Linked DNA regions of Homo sapiens: region 1 is linked to region 2. The links come from fine-mapping of genetic effects on gene expression. A gene starts in region 2. The other region holds a variant in brackets. All regions are shown on one strand. Distances are from middle to middle.

Region 1 (11,786 bases), 23 kb after region 2:
ATGTCTTTTTTTTTTTTTTTTTTTTGAGATGGAATCTCGCTCTGTTTCTTAGGCTGGAGTGCAGTGGTATGATTTAGGCTCGCTGCAACCTCCATCTCGTTCAAGCGATTCTCCTGCCTCAGCTCCCTGAGTAGCTGGGATTACAGATGTGCTGTACCACCACACCCAGCTAGTTTTTGTATTTTTAGTAGAGAGAGGGTTTTGCCATGTTGGCCAGACTGATCTCGAACTCTTGACCTCAGGTGATCCATCTGCCTTGGCCTCCCAAAGTGCTGGGATTACAGGTGTGAGCCACTGTGCCCGGCTGCTTAATGCCCTTTTTTTTTTTTGTTTTAAAAAACAAAAACTCGGCTCACGCCTGTAATGCTAGCACTTTGGGAGGCCGAGGCAGGCCGATCACGAGGTCAGGAGATCGAGACCATCCTGGCTAAAGCAGTGAAACCCCATCTCTACTAAAAATCCCAAAAAAAAAAAAAAAAAAAAAAAATAGCCAGGCAGTCCAGGCGCGGTGGCTCATGCCTGTAATCCCAGCACTTTGGGAGGCCGAGGCGGGCAGATCACGAGGTCAGGAGATCGAGACCATCCTGGCTAACACAGTGAAACCCCGTCTCTACTAAAAATACAAAAAAAATTAGCCGAGCATGGTGGCGGGCGCTTGTAGTCCCAGCTACTCGGGAGGCTGAGGCAGGAGAATGGCGTGAACCCGGGAGGCAGAGCTTGCAGTGAGCCGAGATCGCACCACGGCACTCCAGCCTGGGTGACAGAGCGAGACTCTGTCTCGAGAAAAAAAATAAAAATAAAAAAAAACTCTCTAAATCACAAGGCTAAGATCAGGAGCTGGAGCTATTTTTCAAATTATCGCCATTTGTTAAAAGCGAGAAGGGGGTGGGCACAGTGGCTCACGCCTGTAATCTCAATACTTTGGGAGGCTGAGATGGGTGGATCACCTGAGGTCAGAAGTTGGAGACCAGCCTGGCTAACATGGTGAAACCCCATCTCTGCTAAAAATATAAAAACTAGCCGGGTATGGTGGCGCACACCTGTAGTCCTAGCTACTTGGGAGGCTGAGGCAGGAGAATCACTTGAACCCAAGAGACGGAAGCTGCAGTGAGTCGAGATTGTGCCACTCACTGCACTCCAGCCTGGGCAACAGAGCGAGACTCCGTCTCAAATAAAAAGTGAGAAGGAAGTTGTTCTGGGCTGTGTTTCTCTAATAATTACCTGTGACGTAGTGTAAGAAAACTTTTGGTGATTAATATCCTTATCAAGTATTTGATGATTAATGTCATCAAGTATTATGTGTTGTATGTGCTATATATACTTTTATACAGCTGGCAGCACAGTAGGTTAGTTTAACGCCAGCATCATCGTAAATACTTGAGTTATATGTTGCATCATGTTATGGTGGCTACCACACCACTAGGCCATAGGAAAATTTCAGCTCCATTATAATAATCTTATGGGACTACACTCATATAAACAATCTGTCCTTTACTGAAATGCCATTATGCAGAGCATGACTGTACCATGTTGTTTCGACTTTCCCTTATTGATAACCTTTTAAGTTATTTCCAGTAACAAGAAAATAGTGCTGCAATGAATGTCCTTGTATCTGCCTCCTTTTATATATTTGAGAGTGCTTGTCAAGCATATGTAATGAGAACTGGAATGACTGGATCATAGGGCATACACATTTATAGTTTTGAAATACAGGAGTCTCTCCTTGTCCATGGTTTTGCTTTCCCTTCTTTCAGATACCCGGGGTTAATCAAGGTCTGAAAATAGGTGAGTAGAATACATTCAGATATTTTGAGAGAGACAGAGATCCCACATTCACATAACTTGTTGTTGTATATTGTTATATAATTACAATATACAAATATAATACAGTATTTTATTGTTAATCTCTTATTGTATCTAATTTATAAATTACAGGTATGTACATTTAGGAAAAACATAATATATGTAGGGTTCAATATTATCTGCAGTCTTAAACATCCACTGGGGGATAAGATAAGGACTATTGTGTATTGCCAAATTGACCTTCAAGGTAACTATAACAGTTTATACTTTCAGCATTCATATATGAGAATGGGTACCTGTTTGTAGGATCTTAATAACTTTAGATGTTATCTAACTTTTTTGTTTATCTGATGGGAGGTGGGGGTCTTGGTATCTAATGCTTTTAATTTATATTTCTTGACTAGTGGGGTTGAATATCTTTTTGGATGTTTATTGGCAGCTTCTATATTTTTTCTTCTCTGAGTTTCCTGCTGTTCTTTAACCCATATTCTTCTCACTTATTAGTGATTTTATTTCACCACTATATACATGAATGAGACATATAAGTAGCATATGCTACTTTCAAGTGCCCTCCCCGTTTTCTTTAAATTTGGTAGTCTGTTGTCATTGGAATCAACCAGTAGTTAGTGCTACCATTTATCAAAGAAGTGGAACTGTTCTCTGAATATTTCCCATTTTACCAGAACCCAATTTCATACGGCTTTTAAATGTTGGTAGCAGTTAGTCTTTATTGGTCAAACTGGTCGCACTCTTAATTGCCTATATGGAAACCTACCAGAGCCAATCAGGTGAAGGAAAGAAAAGCATTAATAAGTTAGTAATAATAATAATCCTATTACCTCTGAAGTAGCAACCTCTGAAGGGTAACCCTTTCTTTATTGATGAATAAACTGAGAGGTTAAATAGTCACATAGCTAGGAAGTGTCTCAGCTGAGATTTAAACCCAGGCCATCCAATTCCAAAGCCTTTTCCACCACATTATACTACCTTAGTGGGATGGATACATTTTTGAATACAGCCTTTCAAAGTGTACATAATCTTCTATGCATGATCATGTTAAAAGGGACTAATGTAAAATTATTTTAAGTTTTTCTTTTCTCTTTTGGCTAAAAATTATTTTTAAAAGCTATTTTAAAAACCGATTGTTGGGCTGGGCATGGTGGCTCACACCTGTAATCCCAGCACTTTGGGAGGCTGAGGCAGGAGGATTGCTTGAACCCAGGGTTCAAGACCAGTCTGGGCAACATTGTAAGACATCGTCTCTGCAAAAAGTAAAAAATTAACCAGATGTGGTGGCACATGCCTGTAGTCCCAGCTTCTCGGGAGGCTGAGGCAGAAGGATTGCTTAAGCCTGGGAGGTCAAGGCTGTAGCCTGACTGCAGCTTGACAGATGGGTTTTTCTGTAGTAGCTTTAGCATAAGTATTGATAGTTGGCTTATTTTTACAACCTAATTCAGGGTAGGCATGGTGGTCCACACTTGTAATGCCAGCACTTTGGGATACTGAGACGGGAGAATCACTTGAGCTCAGGAGTCCGAGACCAGCCTGGGCAACATAGTGAGACCTTGTCTCTACAAAAATAAAAACATTTTCCACGTATGATGGCGCATACTCCTGTAGTCCCAGGTAGTTGGGTGACTGAGGTGGGAGGATCACTTAAGCTCAGCAGGTTGAGGCTGCAGTGAGCTGTGATTGTGCCACTGCATTCCAGCCTGGGCAATAGAGCGAGACCTTGTCTCAAAAAAAAAAAAAAAAAAATCAGCATACCGGATTTCCGTCTTAGGTTCTGTTATTAATAAAATGTAGTAATTGGGCTGGGCATGCTGGCTCAAATCCCAGCAGTTTTGAAAAGGAGGCCAAGACGAGAGGCTTGCTTGAGCCCAAAAGTTCGAGACCAGCCTGGGCAGCCCTGTCTCTGCCAAAAGACAGGTTTGGTGGCACGCACGTGTAGTCCAGCTACTTGGGGGGCTGAGGTGGGAGGGTCATTTGAGTCCCGGAGGTCAAGGCTTCAGTGAGCCTTCATCACACCATTGCACTCCAGCCTGGGCAACAGAGTGAGACTCTGTCTAAAAATAAAAAAATTTTTTAAAAGTAGTAATTGAAATAAAAATTTCACTATTAGTGTTTGTGTCTATTACAGGCAGTTTGTGACATGCTTTGTAGCAAAGCTTTAGTATATAATGCTGAAAATTATGTATTTTGCCTGTGCTAATTGTTTTCTTTGTGTTTCTTTTTCTTATAGAAAAAGATGGCAAAGCATTTCATCCAACTTATGAAGAAAAATTGAAGCTTGTGGCACTGCATAAGCAAGTTCTTATGGGCCCATATAATCCAGACACTTGTCCTGAGGTTGGATTCTTTGATGTGTTGGGGAATGACAGGAGGTAACAGTGTTTTTCTGTATAGTGAATTTAATGAGGATAATGTTGGCAAAGGGTACAATGTGTATTGGTTAAGGTGTAAGTAGCTGGTTCATTAGCTTAGGATAAGAACTGAACATTTTTGCTTGCAGCTTCTGGAGTCTTCAGATATTTATCTGTTTTTAGCTTAGAGATGTTTATGGTTAAATATTGTGGAAGAACTGTATTCATCTGCTTATGAACATAAGACAAGTAGAGCTTCATTTGATTCTTCCCAAATAATATTAAAAGTAGCCATTTAAAATATATAGTAATTGATTCCCTTATTGAGGCATAAAAAAAATTGTGACAAAAAAAGAATACATTGAGTATTTTTGTTTAATTAAGGCTCAAATATTATATAAGAAAAATAGGCCAGGTGCGGCAGTTCATGCCTGTAATCCCGGCACTTTGGGAGGCCGAGGTGGGTAGATCATTTGAGGTCAGGAGTTCAAGACCAGCCTGGCCAACATAGTAAAACCCCATCTCTACTAAAAATTAAAAAATTAGCCGGCGGTAGTGGCACATGCCTGTAATCCTACCTACTCGGGAGGCTGAAGCAGGAGAATCGCTTGAGCCTGGGAGGCAGAGGTTCTGCTGAGCCAAGATCGCACCAGTGCACTCCAGTCTGGGCAACAGAGTGAGATCCTATCTCAAAAAAAAAAAGAAAAAAGAAAAATTGATACTCTTTTGCTATATGGGAATCATCAGCAATGCAGTTGTTTGGATTGTATGTGGCGTATCTAATTTAGTAAATCAATACATACTTGTTAAAACTTGAAGTTTTGAGCCTTTTGCTCCCAATAGAATCATTCATTTTACTTACAATTGAGAATTATTCATATTTAGGTTTAAATTTAAAAGTTCTCATTCTACTAAGAAGGGGAGGTAACTTTTCTTGTTATTCCTTACAGGAGAGAATGGGCAGCCCTGGGAAACATGTCTAAAGAGGATGCCATGGTGGAGTTTGTCAAGCTCTTAAATAGGTGTTGCCATCTCTTTTCAACATATGTTGCGTCCCACAAAATAGAGAAGGAAGAGCAAGA[A/C]AAAAAAAGGTGAAGTTTGAGGGCATGGAATACTTTATTGCTGCGCAGCCCAGTGTACTGATGCTTTTGTTTTGTAGAGTGTCTGTTCTAGTTCTAGATCAGGTGTCTTGCTTTCCTTGGATCCCCATTTCTTGTGGCAATTGTTCAAACTTCCTGATGTGAACAGGTACTTGTATTATAAGTTTTGGGGGGAGGGAGGACTGCTTCCTACTGGCCGTGCCTTTAAAAGGAACCTCCCATCCATCATGGCAGCCTTCCTTTTGTTTTATTACACTAAGTTTCTGAATAAGCCCCACCATAAACTCAACCACTCCCTCCTCCCTATCCTCTGGTCTGACATACCCTTTGTTGCAGTCTCCCTCGAGCTTCTAGAATCCTCATGCTCCATTTCATGGTTTGCAACTATGCTACCTTATATAGACATTCATGTTGGCTTTGGCTTCCAGCTGGCTTATTGATTATTTTCAAGTTTTGGAGGAGGAGCTACTGAATGTGCTGTTTATGCTTATGGGATTCTCTGTTGTAGTTGTGAATTAGAATTATAGTTACACCTTATTTTTCTAGTGGCTATATTTTCATCAATTTTGACTATCTAAAATTTTAGGTGATGAAAATGATGCTACAAAACCAATTTTTCTTCAGGTTATGTTATACTTTTTTTTTTTTTTTTTTTTTTTTTTTAAGATGGAGTCTTGCTCTGTTGCTATTGCTCAGGCCGGAGTGCAGTGACACAATCCTCTGCCTCCTGGGTTCAAGCAGTTCTCCTGCCTCAGCCTCCCGAGTAGCTGGGAGAGGGATTACAGGTGCCTGCCACCAACCCAGCTAATTTTTGTGTTTTTAGTAGAGATGAGGTTTTACTATGTTGGCCAGGCTGGTCTCAAACTCCTGACCTCAGGTGATCCACCCGCCTGGTCCTCCCAAAGTGCTGGGATTACAGGCATGAGCCACCTTGCCCAGCCGATGTTATTCTTTAAAAACAATTGATTCTCTGGTTTCCTACCTTAACCTGGATTAGAAATAACAGATTAGAAGAGAAAATAGCTTGATAATTAGGGACATAATAGAAAGCATGAAAAATAGACACGAGAATTATAAAAGCATGGCAGTCAGGGGTCATTTAATATGAAGGTAAACTTCTCCATTACAATAGTATGATGTACAATTTTTATGTTTACAGCTGTAACCCCTGAGTTATCAAGAGATGGAACATTAGATATGATTTATTCCTATTTAAGATAATAGGAAATTGCTTGATTACATTTTCAGAAGATATTTATCCAAAGAAATTTTTTTTTTTAATCTAAAGGAAAGGTTTTGATTCTTATGAGAAAAGAATGAGATTTCTTTAACTGGAAAATTGATTTATGTCCTACAGTCCATTGTGTAGTGATGTTGGATCAATCAGGTATCGCTAGGGTGTCTGTAGAAGTATCTATATATTGCTTTTTAAGTTCTTATTTTAATGATATATATGCATATTTCTCTTAAGCATTGTCAAAAGTTACTACTCAACATATAGAGCTGCGTTTTCGTTTTAAAAATATACTTTTGTCATGGGATAAAGTCCACATAGAATTATTTTAAAGTGTTTAAGAGTAGACTTCATCTATCCTGAAGCTTAAGCTCTGGCTTGTGAACCTTCTTGCTCTGTACCAGCTGTGACACATTAAAAGTAGGTCATGGCCGGGTGCAGTGGCTCACGCCTGTGGTGGCTCACATCTGTAATCTCAGCACTTGGGGAGAACGAGGCGGGCAGATCACTTGAGTCCAAGAGTTCAGGACCAGCCTGGGCAACGTGGCAAAACCCCATCTCTACAAAAAAAAAATACAAAAATTAGCCGGATGTGGTTACAGGTCCCTGTAATTCCAGCTACTCAGGAGGCTAAGGTGGGAGGATCATTTGAGCCTGGGAGGCGGAGGTTGCAGTGAGCCAAGAATGTGCCACTGCACTCCAGTCTGGGTGACAGAGTGAGACCCTGTCTCAAAAAAAAAAAAAAAATAGGTCATGTTATTACAATATTTTGAGACTTGGCTGTGGCTCAGGTAGTTGTTAATCACTTATAGGAGTTAGAGGGGAGAAAGGTGAGGTAGCCCAGACAATTCTCGTGGTAGGTTTATGAAATAGTGTCTTATCTGATACTCCTTAGAAATCTTCCCTTTCATCCTGTCTGCAGGCTCCCTGAACACCATACCACTCTCAGACCCGGAAGATGTCCATTCCTAGCACAATAGGATCTGTTCTTTTTGGAAGGGTCTTGTGGGGTGGGTGAAAGCTGGGCAAGGGCTGCCCTGAGAGGTTAACCGTTCTTTTTTAAATTAAAAGCTTTACAAAAAATTTTAATTTCAGAAATAATACACAAATATATGCAATATAAAATTTTCATTTATGGCAGTATATGAAACACAAACTGAAAAAAATCTTTTTTCCCACATTTCTTTTAATTCCACTCTCCTCTGCATAGATAATAACTGATAAATTTAGGGTATGTCCTTCCAGATCTTTTCCTTTGTATTCACCTTTTTTTTTTTCATTAAGCAAGTGTATTACATGTCTTTACATATTAGGCAATGTATTTCTATCCTTTGGCTCTGCGATATTTCAGGGTGGATTTTTTACTTCTGTACACGTTTGTCGAGTGCTTGTTCTTTCCAGCACTGTGCTAAGCCCTGAGGATGTCGTGGTGTGAGATAGGCAGTCTCTTCCCCTATGGAGCATCTAGTTTAATGGGTAATGCAGATCTATTGCTGAATGTATCACACAAATTTAATTATAATGACAGCAGGTATTATGAAGGAAAAGCTTTTAGTGCTGTGAGCATATATTAGAGGGGATCCTTCAGGGTATAGGAATATCATAATGACTTAAGTAGTTTCTTATGATGGACACATTTCTGTTGCTGTGCAACAATAATTATTCTTGATGTGATTTGTATATTGTGCGATTGATTCCCTATAAGTTTCTGCTAGTAAAGTGTATGTATTTTAAATTTTGATGTATATATCCACATTGTTCTCTAAAAAGGTCATGTCAGTTTTCCCTGGGAGCTAAAGTTTTATTTTTAAACAGGATTCAACGTATAGGGTTCATTCTCTATCTTTGCCTTGTAGGAAGGAGGAAGAGGAGCGAAGGCGGCGTGAAGAGGAAGAAAGAGAACGTCTGCAAAAGGAGGAAGAGAAACGTAGGAGAGAAGAAGAGGAAAGGCTTCGACGGGAGGAAGAGGAAAGGAGACGGATAGAAGAAGAAAGGCTTCGGTTGGAGCAGCAAAAGTAAGTTTATTATGTGGCTTATGTTTTAAAATGAGAAATGGAAAAAAAATAGAATAAAAATAAGAAATGAGCGGGCCAGGTGTGGTGGTTCACGCCTGTAATCCCAGCACTTTGGGAGGCGGAGGCGGGCAGATCACCTGAGGTTGGGAGATCACCTGAGGTTGGGAGATGGAGACTATCCTGGCTAACACAGTGAAACCCTGTTTCTATTAAAAATACAAAAAATTAGCTGGGCGCAGTGGCATATGCCTGTAATCCCACCTACTCAGGAGGCTGAGGCAGGAGAATCTCTTGAACCCAGGAGGTGGAGGTTGCAGTGAGCCGAGATCGCGCCATTGCACTCCAGCCTGGGTAATGAGTGAAACTCCGTCTCAAAAAAAAAAAGGAATGTATTAGAAGGTTTGGGGGTTCACTTGCAGAACCCAGAGATTGGAAGCAGGAGCTGAGGTTGCTTGGTTGCGCTCTCTGTTTCTTGTCTCTGCTTCTCTCAGCTTATGTCTCTGCTTCATCCTTGCTCTCTGCAAATTGTCAACTGTCTGCTTTGGCATATGCAAGGCTGTCCGAGGATTTATTTGGTCTATGTTTCCATGCATCTGACAGAGACTGGCTGGAATCTGTGAGACCCAGTTGCAGTTTCCCAGGACAGAGAATCTTGTTGGTCCAGTCTATGTCAGATATCCATTTATAGTCCTTAGTACAAGATTTGGAGGCTTCAACTATTGCTTACTCAGTAAGGGCTTTGAGACTCAGAGACTGACAGGTTCTTCAAGAGGGAGCTGTGGGTACAAGGAGGCAGTGATTAACACCCATAAAACACTGGGAAGTAAGTCTGAGTTTGTAGGGGTGGCATGGCTTGTAGGTTAAACCAGAGAACATGAGAGTCCATTGATTTCTTCTCATTATTTCTGGGTAGTTCCTCAGAAAAAGGTTTAGTGCTAGCCTCAAACTAATCCAGGCCCTCATTCAACTTTGGAGAAAGACTATGAATGCAGCTCTTTTTTGGGGGAGGTTGTCCTAGGTGGATCGAATGTTGTGCTGTATGTAGGAGTTTGTGAGGCTTTGCTTTGTTATCTATTAATAGATGGCTTTGAGGTCTCTGTTAAGTTGGTCACATAAGTAAGTTAAGAAGCATGTGGTTGCTGGCTGTGGTGGCTCATGCCTGTAATCCCAGCACTTTGGGAGGCCGAGGCGGGCGGATCACTTGATTGAGGTCAGGGGTTTGAAACGAGCCTGGCCAACATGGTGAAACCGTCTTTACTAAAAATATAAAGATTAGCCAGGCGTGGTAGCAGGTGCCTGTAATCCCAGCTACTTGGGAGGCTGAGGCAGGAGAATCGCTTGAACCTAGGAAGTGGAGGTTGCAGTGAGCTGAGATCACGCCACTGCACTCCAGCATGGGTGACAGAGTGAAACTCCGTCTCAAAAAAAAAAAAAAGAAGAAGCATGTGGTTTATCTATAAAAGAATATGAGTATCTCTAAACTAAGCATGCCAAGATATTTTCAGTATTTCCTCTATTAAGACAGGCTTTAAATTAAATGCTGTGGACCCTTAATTTTTCACTGGCTTTATTTATACTTACCAGGGCCACCTGTAACATCTTCCAGCTATTCTTCTGCCTCTTACTGTTTTTTATGTATTTAGGTACAGAAGCCATAGCCAACAGTTAAATACCTCATCTATGTCAGAGATGACAATCCATCATCTTAAAGCATCGTGGTAAATTAGTGTAGCTCTAGAGCCAAACTGCCTGGATTTGCATCAGGCTGTAGCATCTGCTAGCAGTATAGTCTTGGGCAAGTTACTGAACCCTCTGTCAGAGGGTTGTTGTGAGGACTAAATGGGTTAGTATGTGTGAGTACTTTCAACACTGCATGGCACATAGTAAGGGCACAATAAATGTTAATAATTATGATGGTGGTCATGATGATGATGATCATATGCTTATCTTCCATCCCGAATTTTCCTGGAAAATCCTAAGTAAAAAATTAGAGGCCAGGCTTATTTTCTTAAATCTTTCTTCTGGACCCAGAACACATACTAATTGGTGTACATTACTAGCTTAGTTGTTTTTAAGAGTTACAGACTGTAAAAGTAAGTAATAAGGACATTTTATTTTGTCATGAACAATCTCCTGTAGCCAGACTAGTATATATATTTTTAATGTTTTTAGGCAGCAGATAATGGCAGCTTTAAACTCCCAGACTGCCGTGCAGTTCCAGCAGTATGCAGCCCAACAGTATCCAGGGAACTACGAACAGCAGCAAATTCTCATCCGCCAGTTGCAGGAGCAACACTATCAGCAGTACATGCAGCAGTTGTATCAAGTCCAGCTTGCACAGCAACAGGTACGATAGACAACCCTAGAATTCAGCCTTAGAGAGAGTTTTTAGTTTCATTGGAACCCAAGTTCTTTTTTAACAGTCGCAAATGAATTTTGCATTAGTTAGCCTCTAAGGTGTAAAGTAACTTTTGGGTGATCTTTTAGGCAGACTTGAGAATTGCACAGGCAATTGTGAGAGAAAATATGTGTTATCGAAGCAACCGATGATGTTATATTGTCATAAGGGTATTTGGGAGTTGTATGGGTTGAGTGTCTTTACTGTGAGTCTGGCATAGACCCTAATAGTGGTCCTGGAACATGAGGACCTGAGTAACTAGCCATAGTTCAGAGATGTCCTTCAGGCAGTGCATTGTCAGAGGCTTGGACAGCCTCCAGTGGGAGGACTCCCCTGCCCTAAGACCATGGGCTGGTTCTGCAGAGCTAGATTGGGTCCATTTGACTTTGTGTTAGGCACCATAGTTAGGCAGTGCTCATAACAGCACATTGCTATTCCTCCTCCAACTGCCTGCCCCCAAGTATTTTGCTTCCACATAGGAGAGGTTGGTTTAGGTGAAAGAACATGGGACTGGGAGTCTCATAACACTTGGATTCTCTTTGGGCTTTGACATTACCTTGTTTGATCTCAGACAAGTTATTACTGCTCTGATTGTTCTGCTCTTTCTTTCAGTCCGTAACAATAGGATATAAAATCAAAGCACCTGTCCTGTTAACCTCACAGGACTATCAGAGGAGTCAAATGAGAAAAGAGTTACCCTGTGAACGATTTTTGTACTTGTAGAAGACACTAATTTTACATTCATTTTTTACATCTTGTGCAGGCATAAAATACCTCCTTAAACTTAACGTAGCTTAGTTTAACTTACTTAATTTTCACTTATAAAGCAGTTACCACCTGTCAAAAAATCTGAGTGAAGAAAAGTGTTACATT
Region 2 (11,786 bases):
GTGCTTGCAGTCAAGGAATACAAAATAATTTTCACTACTAAAGGGTACTGCATTACTAAATAAGACTAACTGCAAAACTTTACTGAGTACTGATTATTAGTTCACCAGAAAAAGCAGGAAACAAAAAGTTGAACTCAGTCCCTGTCTAGTGATCCACGATATTTACAGAAAAGATGAAAATATGTGGAGAGAACAAATGGAAAGTCTAAATTTCAGAAAGCATTTCAGAAATGGTAAACACTTCATGTGGAAAATTATTGAATGGAATGGAGCTTAAGAAATTCACACAGCAAAGTTTGCGGATTGGAAAGTATCCTTTTTTGGCTGGGCGCGGTGGCTCATGCCTGGAATCCCAGCACTTTGGGAGGCCAAGGCAGGCAGATCACCTGAGATCAGAGGTTCGAGACCAGCCTGGGCAACATGGTGAAACCCCATCTCTACTAAAAATACAAAAATTAGCTGGGCATGGTGGTGCATTCTTCTTTTTTTTTTTTTTTTTTTTTTTGAGATGGAGTCTTGCTCTGTCACCCAGGCTGGAGTGCAGTGGCGCGATCTCGGCTCACTGCAAGTTCCGCCTCCTGGGATCGAGCCATTCTCCTGCCTCAGCCTCCCGAGTAGCTGGGACTACAGGCGCCCGCCACCACGCACAGCTAATTTTTTGTATTTTTAGTAGAGACGAGGTTTCACTGTGTTAGCCAGGATGGTCTCGATCTCCTGACCTCGCGATCTGCCCGCCTCGGCCTCCCAAAGTGCTGGGATTACAGGCGTGAGCTACCGCGCCTGGCTGGTGGTGCATTCTTGTAATCCCAGCTACTCAGGAGGCTGAGTCAGGAGAATTGCTTGAACCCAGGAGGCGGAGGTTGCAGTGAGCCGAGATCGCGCCACTGCACTCCGGCCTGGGCAACAGAGTGAGATTCCATCTCAAAAAAAAAAAAAAAAGTATCCTTTTTTTTTTTTTTAAATGAAAGCAAGTTTATTAAGAAAGTAAAGGAATAAAAGAATGGGTACACCATAGGCAGAACACCCAAAAGTATCCTCTTTTATAAAAGAACAGACATGGAGAAGATATTTGAAAGTTTTCAAAAATACACCTTTTTGATCAATCTGTGTGCCTCCTCACATATAAAAGACAGGGATATAGAAAAACAGGTAGTTGGCCGGGCACGGTGGCTCACGCCTGTAATCCCAGCACTTGGGGAGGCCAAGGCAGGCGCATCACGAGGTCAGGAGATTGAGACCATCCTGGCTAACACGGTGAAACCCCGTCTCTACTAAAAATACAAAAAAATTAGCCAGGTGTGGTGGCAGGAGCCTGTAGTCCCAGCTACTCAGGAGACTGAGGCAGGAGAATGGCGTGAACCCGGGAGGCGGAGCTTGCAGTGAGCCAAGATCGCGCCACTGCACTCCAGCCTGGGCGACAGAACGAGACTCCGTCTCAAAAAAAAAGGAAAAGAAAAACAGATAGTTGCGCTGAACTGTTTATGTAAGTTAGATTCTACTGTGACAAGTGCATTATAACAAAGATCTATTGAAAAATCTTGGGGGAAGAAGGAATTACAAAACAGTAATGGATGTTTGTTATTTTATGGTAATGGTTATACAGGTATATGCCTGTGCCAAAACTCATCATATTGTAAACTTTAATATTTGCAGTTTATTATACAACAATTATACTCAATAAAGCATGGGAAAAACACGTTTCCTAGACTTGCTATTCAAAGTGTGGTCTGTAGACAGCAGCATCGGCATCACCAGAAAGCTTATGAGAAATGTATACTCTCAGGCCTCCCTCTATACCTACTGAGTCAGAATCTGCAGTTTAATAAGACATTCAGGTGAGCGTGTCTGGAACTCATCTCCCACAGTGAACTGTTAAAGCGAAGTTATATTCTCTAATTTTTTAATTTTATTTTTTAGAAACAGGGTCTCCTTCTGTCGCCCAGGCTGGAATGCAGTGACGCCATCATGGTTTACTGGAGCCTTGACCTCCCAGGCTCAAGTGATCCTTCCACCTCAGCCTCCCAAGTAGCTGGACCCTAGGCACATGCCACCATGCCCAGCTAATTTTTTATTTTTTGTAGAGACAGGGTCTTCCTATGCTGCCCAGGCTGTTCTCAAACTCCTGGGCTCGAACAATCCTCCTGCCTCAGCCTCCCAAAGTGCTGGGATTACAGGCATGACGCACTGTGCCAACCCCTAATGTTTTTAGTCATTAAGGGCAACCACCTACACAATGGCCCTTGATGTTTCGATTAGCAAGAGGTTCAGATGCTTGGTCTAGAGGATGTTTGGGTTTTCCAACCATATTCAATATGTTAAATTACAAAACAATAAAAAAGTCCATATAATTTTTTTTAATGTATGTCTTTTTTTGAGACAGTCTCTCTCCATCACCTAGGCTGGAGCGCAGTGGTGTGATCTTGGCTCACTGCAACATCCACCTCTCAGGTTCAAGCAATTCTCCTGCCTCAGCCTCCTGAGCAGCTGGGATTACAAGTGCCTACCACCACGCCCAGCTAATTTTTGTATAAAAAGTCCATGTAATTAATTAATTACCATATTTTACCTACCTTCCTAGGTATATTCTATAGGTTTTAATAATTATTGTATACTTTTTAAAAAAATAACTTTTTTTCTGATTACAAAAGAAATGCTTATCGTGAAAACTTGGAAAACAGAATCTAGCATTTCATGAAGAAGGGTTATATTTACCCTACTCATTATCATCCCAACAGTTATTGAATGTTAAAGGTAGAACACTGAGCAAAACACAGGGGAATATATATGTATATATAACATTTTGAAGGTTAGGCACATAATATGCATATTTTTAAGCTAATGAAGCTAAATATAAAGATCCAAGCTAAGTGGGAAGAACACAGACCTTAGAGCAGTAGAATTAGAGTTTTTAGTCCTCTACAACTAGAAGTGGGTTTACCATAAAGTTAATGAAGCTCAAGCTTCAGGGCCCCTTGCTTACACAGGCCCCTCCCAAGGCCCTTAGAGCGGCCTTAGCAGTATACACTTCTGTAACAGTTTTGAGAGTAAGATATTTAAGACCTCTGTCTTCGTTTCTAACTTCCCTTCGTCATCCTCCTCTGGTTAGGAGGTATTGAAATGGCTATAGGCTTTGTGGGGGATTTGGCTAAGGGGACAATGAATAGGGATACATTTAATTTGGGGTCAGTGGCATGCATTTAAGTGGTTTGCAGTCACTTCTGCATGTTTTTAAATTATTGCTCACCATGGGTGTAGGAATGGCTTTCTGGAATATACCTACTGCCCATTATGTCAATTCAGCCAGCACCATGTCACAAAAGTGCAAGGCCAAAGGGCGAAGGAACCCTATGTTGCCTGACACAGGAAGTACTTGGGTAGTGGAGGAGCAACAAGGTTTGAAAGAAAAGAAAGAGCTAGTAAAATTCTTCCATTCTTTTTCCTCTTCTGGGGATGTTGTCTATAGGCACATAGAATGGTCCAGCGTTTGACATACTGTTGTAGGCTTTCCTACAATACAGCTTCTAATAAAACTAGGCTGTCCTGAACCCCTGGTAATATAATTGCTTACCTTTATACCAAGAAGGCTGGGAAAGCACCAAAATCTACTGTGGTGTGTACCCACGCAGACTTCAAGGGGTTCGTGCTATAAGACCCGAAGTCTTATGAGATTGTCCAAAACACAAAAAACCATGTCAGCAGGGCCTATGGTGGTTCCATGTGTGCTATATGTGTTTGTGACAGGATCAAGCATGTTTTCCTTATCGAGGAAAAGAAAATCATTGTGAGAGTGTTGAAGGCACAAGCACAGGGTCAGAAAGCTAAATAAAAAATGAAGCTTCTTTGAGTAATTAAAATTAAAAGACTTAAAAATATGCTTCCAACCATCAGAAGTGGAAGATTATAAGGAGAGGGATCAATTCTCTCAATGCCTAATCAAAATGAAGGTTCTCACTCACTGAGAATCTAAGTCATATCTGCAATTATAACTGCACCATACTTCATGTTTTTATGTGAAGCATGCAAAAGGGAATAGATTAGAAACCCTATGTTTATGGGACAAAAACTTATAGTTGTACTACAGTGAGTCTGTCTGTATGTGAAGTTATATGTCTTATCCACCGTAATGAATGAGATCCTGTCTGAATGCAGCATACAAATCTTGTCCTGAAAAAAACCCTCGGCCAGGCGCGGTGGCTCACGCCTGTAATCCCAGCACTTTGGGAGGCCGAGGCGGGCATATCACAAGGTCAGGAGATTGAGACCATCCTGGCTAACACGGTGAAACCTCGTCTCTACTAAAAATACAAAAAAATTAGCCGGGCATGGTGGTGGGCACCTATAGTCCCAGCTACTCAGGAGGCTGAGGCAGGAGAATGGCGTGAACCCTGGAGGCGGAGCTTGCAGTGAGCCAAGATCGCGCCACTGCACTCCAGCGTGGGCGACAGAGAGAGACTCCGTCTCAAAAAAAAGAAAAAAACTCTCTAGGGCTTCAGTAAAAACCACACACAAAATTGTCACTGAAGCAGCCAAACGGCCATAAAAATCTCATAGCACATCCATGAAACTTGAGAGAGGTTTCCCAAACTGAACAATAACCCTAAAAAAGTACGTTAACAATATCAGTAATGAGTTGTGATGCTGAAATAAATTTATAAACAATTATTAAGAAACAAATTTAATCAGCCATGCTGGAGAAAAGACTGATCTTTCTCTTTTCTTTATAGAGAATTACAAAATACGCCGGGCGCGGTGGCTCTCACCTGTAATCCCAGCACTTTGGGGAGGCTGAGGCGGGCAGATCACATGAGGTCAGGAGTTTGAGACCAGCCTGGCCAACATGGGGAAACTCTGACTCTACTAAGTTTACAAAAATTAGCCGGGCGTGGTGGTGAGCACCTGTAATCCCAACTACTTGGGAGGCTGAGGCAGGAGAGTTGCTTGAACCCGGGAGGCAGAGGTTGCAGTGAACCGAATTGCACCACTACACTCCAGCCTGGGTGGCACAGCAGGACTGTCTGCAAAAAACAAAAAAAAAAAAAAAAAAAAAAAGTTACAAAATAATTGTTATAGGAAAAGGCAATCAGAAGTACGCAGCCAAAACAAAGGTGGGAAAAATGATCATAAATGGTGCTCCCAAAGTCTGGAAACACAGGTGAATATACATAATGTCGGGGGCGACTTCAATCTTTTAGAAAAAAATAGGTTTCTGGGCTCTCAGACGCCCTGTAGAAGAATATCAGGCAGTCAATGAAAATATTACGGTTATGTGTGTGATGTTTGTGGGTTTTATTAACTTTTAAAATATCATTTGTTTTTTCTTTCTCTTTCTAAATATACATTCACTTTCCTACCCTTCTGCGCGTAACTTTTTGTACTCTTTCCTAATGAGGGTCCCCACAAATTGTATGAGCTGCGCTTCCTGCAAAACCAGGATCAGCCCCGTCTGCAACCTCAAAGTCACTGAATTTCTCTGCAGTCTCAGTTTCCCCTTTTAAAAAAATTGGGAATTTGCCCTGCATTTCCTTAGAGTTGCTGTGAAGGCCAAACGAGATGGTGGTGGGCAAAAGAGCTCTGCCAACCACGCAGGCCCCTGCAAATGTGAAGGGCCTCTGACCTGGAGGGTTGGGTGCTGGCCGACCTCGTCAATCCTCCCTACTCCGACCCCCGCGCGGGGCTCCACTGACCCCGCCCCTGCTGGGCACTGACAGCCGCAGCACCGAACCGAGCGGTGGGGGTGGTAGCACCCGCCCACCTGGAGCAACTGGGATCCGAAAGGATGGGGTGCGGGGGAGGGGAGTTCGGGACCAACGGGAGTTGGGGAGCCTGAAGGGTGGTCGCTGAGCCAGGGCAACTGACGATTCCGGAGGGGGTGGGGCGCCAGGCCTCAGCCCCTCTCCCGGAGCCCTCCAGCCTCCTCAGCAGCGGAAGTTCCGGTGTCGGTAAGCGGAGGTCAGAGGTCAGCAGGAAGTCGATACGTGGCTGCCGTCTGTCCCCGCTGAGGAGGTGCAGCAGCCGGAGATGGCGGCGGTGCTGAACGCAGAGCGACTCGAGGTGTCCGTCGACGGCCTCACGCTCAGCCCGGACCCGGAGGAGCGGCCTGGGGCGGAGGGCGCCCCGCTGCTGCCGCCACCGCTGCCACCGCCCTCGCCACCTGGATCCGGTCGCGGCCCGGGCGCCTCAGGGGAGCAGCCCGAGCCCGGGGAGGCGGCGGCTGGGGGCGCGGCGGAGGAGGCGCGGCGGCTGGAGCAGCGCTGGGGTTTCGGCCTGGAGGAGTTGTACGGCCTGGCACTGCGCTTCTTCAAAGGTGAGCCGGGCCAGCCCCACCCCCGCCGCTTCTGCCCGGCCCCGGGAGCCCGGCGTGGGCTGTGGTCCCCAGGGTGACTGGACCAGACTTGCCCTCACCCACTCATACTGGGCTGTGGTGACTCAAGCGGGGTTCCCTCCTTGGGGGTACCCGAAGTTTGTCACTACCCGCTTGGCCACTAGGTCACACCCCTGACGGGCCTGCAACCTTGGTTTAGCAGTCATGTCCCGCCTCCCAGAGGTTACCGGGACATTTTACCTGATTTAGCTTCTGGGATTTCCAGGAGCCCTGGTGGAAGAATGAGCCCACTTTCTTCCAAAGGATCCCATTCTGGGATTGCCTTTTATTATTATTATTTTTTTAACTGACGCTTTTCTTTTCCTATTTCCCATGGCTTGTCACATCAGAACCCGCCGATTTTTACCCTTAGTGGAAGAAATCTGTCAAGAGGTTCCATACATAGCTTTTCCAGCCATTCTTGGGAACCATAAACTGGAACAGGACTTGATCCCCCGGCAGATTGATGTGGCAGAGAGGAGGAAGTAAAGTGTTAAGCTCATCATCCTCTCCGGCTTGTCAAACTCTTGAGGAGAGATGTCCACTATGTTCTAGTAACTTCTAGGTGGTTAAAATTTTACATTGTAAGCAATGTGCAAGAGTGAATTCTCAGAGTAAGGCCTAACAGTACCTTCTGTGCTTTTCGCATAATTAATTGTTAAATGTCTCTTGTCTTAGAGCAAGATTGTAGTGTGCGGTTTTTTTTTTTTTTAATTGGGTGATTCACTTAGTCGAATGGTGGAGAGACCAATCACATGATTTTTGTCAGTGGGAAAAACTGATGAAAGCCCGTTAGTTTGATTCTTAAAGATACTTAGTCTTGTAGGGCGAATGGACAGGGAGGGACATCAGCAAATGCAACTTTAAAAGTGGTTGCTAGGTTCCACGTACATTCCAGAGCAGCATATTTATGACACTTTCCCCAGAGGGAGTACCTTTTGGAGTACATATTTTACTAGCCAAAGTTGAGTAGTTCAATGTAATGATACACACGGAAGTTGTTTTCTCTCAAAATAACTTTAATTGTGCAAACTAGTGAAAGTTTTATAAATTTTCCAGAACATTTGATCATTTCACATTCAATGACATATTCGTGGTCATTGCACAATGAGTTGAGCCCTCTGTGTACTAACTAGCTTGGGGAATTGGTAATGGCTAATGGGTTTTGGATCATTTGACTTTTAGATCACCGGCTTGAATTTAGAGTTTGCTGTAGTGATGATATATTACCACTTGATAAAAATCAGGTGGTTTCTGTACAATTCATATAGCTACATTCCATCTTAAATTTTTATTCTTGGAACTTATTTTTCAGTAAAGTATATTGTAGCAGAGAGTAAGAGTAGAAATGAACTAATTCCTTTTTTTTTTTTTTTTTGAGCTGGAGTCCTGCTCTGTTGCAGGACTGAGGGAGGCTGAGGCAGGAGAATCACTTGAACCCGGGAGGCGGAGGTTGCAGTGAGCCAAGATGGCACCATTGTACTCCAGCCTGGGCGACGAGCAAAACTCCGTCTAAAAAAAAAAAAAGAATCGCTTCAATATGGGAGGCAGAGGTTGCAGTGAGCCGAGATCATGCCACTGCACTCCATCCTGGGCGACAAAGTGAAATTCTGTCTCAAAACAAAGAAAAAGATTAAAACACTGTAACGTGTAGTATACTTAACATTGTTTGGAGAGTCAGGAAGCTCTGGATTCTAGTTACCTTGTAAACTAGACAATTAACTTTTCCAGAATCAGTTTCATATGTATAAAGGGAGCTGGATTCTATAAAATATGATGTCTCAGATTTAAGATTCAGTGGTCTTAACCTAACAGATTATTTTAACATGTGTCTTGAGTGGTAGGAATCCTGGGGAAACTTATAACTTGGGGCCTAGGTGTTAGTCACCTTAGAGAATAAAGCTACACTGATAGGTGTGGTTCACTCACTTCCTAAATGAAGTTCTCAAAGCAATATCCAGGTACTAAAAAGGAGAAATAGCTGTGTAGCAATTAAAAGCTACCTTTCTGCATGTGTCATTGGAGACTGTTAGTATATGAGACACTAACTGACAAAAGGGAAGGATGTAAAAGCAGTCAGAAGAATTATGGAATGTGGAGTGAGCCAAGTAATGCTGCCTTTGTTTTGTTTTTTGTTTTTGAGATAGAGTCTCACTCTGTCGCCCAGGCTGGAGTGCAGTGGTGCCATCTCGGGGCTCACTGCAAGCTCCACCTCCCGGATTCACTCCATTCTCCTGCCTCAGCCTCCCGAGTAGCTGGGACTACAGGTGCCCACCACCACGCCCGGCTAATTTTTTGTATTTTTCGTAGAGACGAGGTTTCACCGTGTTAGCCAGGATGGTCTCGATTTCCTGACCTCGTGATCCTCCTGCGTCAGCCTCCCAAAGTGCTGGGATTACAGGTGTGAGCCACTGTGCCCAGCCTGGTTTTTTTTTTTTTTTTTTTTTTTAGGCAGAGTTTGATTCTTGTTGCTCAGGCTAGAGTGCAATGGCGCGATCTCAGCTCACTGCAACCTCTGCCTCGAGGGTTCAAGTGATTCTCCTGCCTCTGCCTCCCGAGTAGCTGAGATTACAGGCATGTGCCACCACGCCCAGGTACTTTTGTATTTCTAGTAGAGACGGGGTTTCTCCATGCTGGTCTCGAACTGCCGACCTCAGGTGATCTGCCCACCTTGGCCTCCCAAAGTGTTGGGATTATAGGCGTGAGCCACCGTGCCCGGCACCTTTGTTTTAATGTGTGGATTTTTCTGGTGGAACACATGGTGTTTTGTCAGTCTTGCTGGGACTTTTAATCGCTATTCTATGGTTTTATACCAGTATCTCACGAGAATTAGAAATAACATTACATTTTCGGCCGGGTGTGGTAGCTTTTGCCTGTAATCCCAGCACTTTGGGAGGCCGAGGCGGGTGGATCACAAGGTCAGGAGATCGAGACCACCCTGGCTAACACGGTGAAACCTCATCTGTACTAAAAATAAAAAAATAAAAAAATTAGCTGGGCGTGGTGGCAGGCGCCTATAGTCCCAGCTACTTGGGAGGCTGAGGCAGGAGAATCACTTGAACCCTCAAGGCGGAGCTTGCAGTGAGCCAAGATTTCGTCCCTGCCCTCCAGCCTGGGCAACAGAGCAAGACTCCATCTCAAAAAAATAAATAAATAAAGGAAAGAACATTACATTTTCTCTTCCACTGTGGAATAAATACGAATCTTGAAAGCATGGATATATTTTTCCATTGCAAATAGCTTGGGTTGGAAATGACAAGCCCTATTTCTTATTCCATCCTTGTCAGGGTGGTAATAGGCCAGTGACTGAATCAATTACGTCAACTATTCTTAATTTTTTATGACAGTAAAAGTAAAATAGATGAAGATGTGGGTAAATGTAAGTTAGCATTTTACCATCTAAATTTCAGACATTATTGACTTTTCAGTATGGATAGTTTTATATTAGGTTACAACTATAAATGAATAGTACGTTATCTTTTGCTTAGAGTCCAAAAGAGGAGTTAAGGACCCAGTGACAACTGCAGTACAGTGTGGAGGACTGAGGGAGCAGATGCCATTCCAGAGGGGGGAAGGCCAAGAGCCATGAAAGCCATGAGAAGTCAAAGCATGTCTGTTTGCAAAATGGAAAATAGAAAGCAGTTTGATGGAGAGAGCTGGGAAGGTAACTGAGTTCAATTCTTGGAAGGACTTGCATGCCATTGTCATTTTTTTTTTCTGAGACGGAGTCTTGCTATGTCACCCAGGCTGGAATGCAGTGGCATGATCTCCACTCCCTGCAACCTCTGCCTCCTGGGTTCATGTGATTCTCCTGCCTCAGCCTCGTGAGTAGCTGAGCTTACAGGCTTGTGCCACCACACCCAGCTAATTTTTGTATTATTAATAGAGATGGGGTTTCACCATGTTGGCCAGTCTGGTCTTGGACTGACCCCAAATGATCTCCCCGCCTCGGCCTTCCAAAGCGCTGGGATTACAGGCGTGAACCACCGCGCCTGGCCATGTAAGTATTAATAGTTCGGCCTTTTTGTCAGTAAATTAGAAGATGAGGAACCACTGGAGGTTTTTAAAGGGAGGAGCAAAGTTGCTCAATTCTTTTTTTTTTTTTAGACAGTCTGGTTTTGTTATGCAGGCTAGAGGGCAGTAGTGCGATCTTGGCTCACTGCCCCCTATGCCTCCCAGGCTCAAGCCATCCTCCCACCTCATCCTCCTGTGTGACTGGGACCACAGGCACGAGCCACCATGCCCGGCTAATTTTTGTATTTTTTGTAGAGACAGAGGTCTTGCTTTGTTGCCCAGCTGGTCTTTAGCTCCTGAGCTCAAGCGATTCACCCGCCTTGGCCTCTCAAAGTGCTGGGATTACAGGCATGAGCTACCACGCCCGGCCAGAGTTGCCCAGTTCTATTTTAACAATGTTAAGCTAGGTTTTCTTATCTCCATGGGTTAAGGACCCACAGGAATCCAGTGGGTTCATTTTATTATGACCTTTATACTTCTTGGATGGAGTTGACCTGGGGAATTGTATTTTGGTTTTTAGAGTTCTTTGGGGTGGACTTTTCCTTCTCTAATACTTTATTACTGTATTACATTAAGCTGGTAGATTGTTTACATTAATTTAAGATTTCAGAGTAATAATTGTCAATAGTTATTGAGTAGATGTTTACTAAATCTCAGGTACTATGCCAAAAACTGTATGTACATTATTTTGTTTAATCCTCCAAGAGGCCTTCTGTAAGGGTATTAATCCCATTTCTGAGTTAAGGATCCTGCCTCAGGCCCCTCAGTTATTTGGAAGGTAAGTCTTGGACTCATTTTCTTTATGGAATAGTTCTACTAGCATTGCTATTGATTATACCCAATTGTGTTACTGATAGTAGAGTATTATATGTTGGGAGAGAATTATATTAATGATAGCAAACAAATGGACAACTGAAATGGTTCCATTTCCTCTTGTCTTCTTTAAACATAGGCAACTACAAGAGCATTTATAAATGGCTTCCTTAATGTTTTAAAATACTGTACAGCTGTAATTTATTCATTGGAAACATATATAATTAGTGTGCCTCCTGGACTTCAGTGGTCTATCCTCAGATAATTTCAAGTTTGTTACTATGGAACATCTATTAGAGTTCTTTTTCCCTTTTATTATCTTTACCTTTAGACATAAGTATGTAATACTGTAGGAGGATATATAGACCTAAGAGAGACAGATGTAAGACAGAAAAACAATTATAGCCACCAAGTTCATGTTAAATTTGAGCTGAACCAAAACTTTCCTTTGACTGGATTCAGGAATGTGTATGTGTTGTTGTTGTCATTGTTTTTTTTTTTTTTTTTGAGATGGAGTCTCATTCTGTCACCGAGGCTGGAGTGCAATGGCGCGATCTCAGCTCACTGCAGCCTCTGCCTCCTGGGTTCAAGCAATTCT

Direction of the effects. Positions count from the first base shown, and alleles are read on the strand shown. Sizes are in standard deviations (SD) of each study's normalised expression.
For the expression in prefrontal cortex of the gene that starts at base 5,953 in region 2, allele A in region 1 goes with a higher level than allele C (moderate effect, 0.44 SD a copy in ROSMAP).

The links. PIP is the estimated chance that this variant, and not a neighbour inherited with it, causes the effect. A credible set is the group of variants that fine-mapping cannot tell apart.
Region 1: its variant is the best candidate, but not a certain one, in a credible set for the expression of ACBD3 in prefrontal cortex (ROSMAP, PIP 0.52).

The regions. Positions count from the first base shown.
Region 1 is chr1:226,158,260-226,170,045 of GRCh38, reverse strand. It overlaps ACBD3 (acyl-CoA binding domain containing 3), which reads left to right. Exons shown (of 8, transcript NM_022735.4): 2 at 4,046-4,187; 3 at 5,117-5,257; 4 at 8,357-8,515; 5 at 10,688-10,862. Among named protein-coding and RNA genes, the nearest start is that of ACBD3-AS1, 16 kb to the right of the region's middle. RefSeq lists an enhancer at 6,024-6,193. The variant A/C (reference allele first, on the strand shown) is at 5,249.
Region 2 is chr1:226,180,908-226,192,693 of GRCh38, reverse strand. ACBD3 (acyl-CoA binding domain containing 3) reads left to right here and starts at 5,953. Exons shown (of 8, transcript NM_022735.4): 1 at 5,953-6,304. The coding sequence starts at 6,019. It overlaps LOC101927247 (a long non-coding RNA gene), which reads right to left and starts at 4,798. Exons shown (of 2, transcript XR_001738504.2): 1 at 4,761-4,798. It also overlaps the pseudogene RPL34P7. RefSeq lists silencers at 6,052-6,346, 5,983-6,462 and enhancers at 9,768-10,268, 10,269-10,769.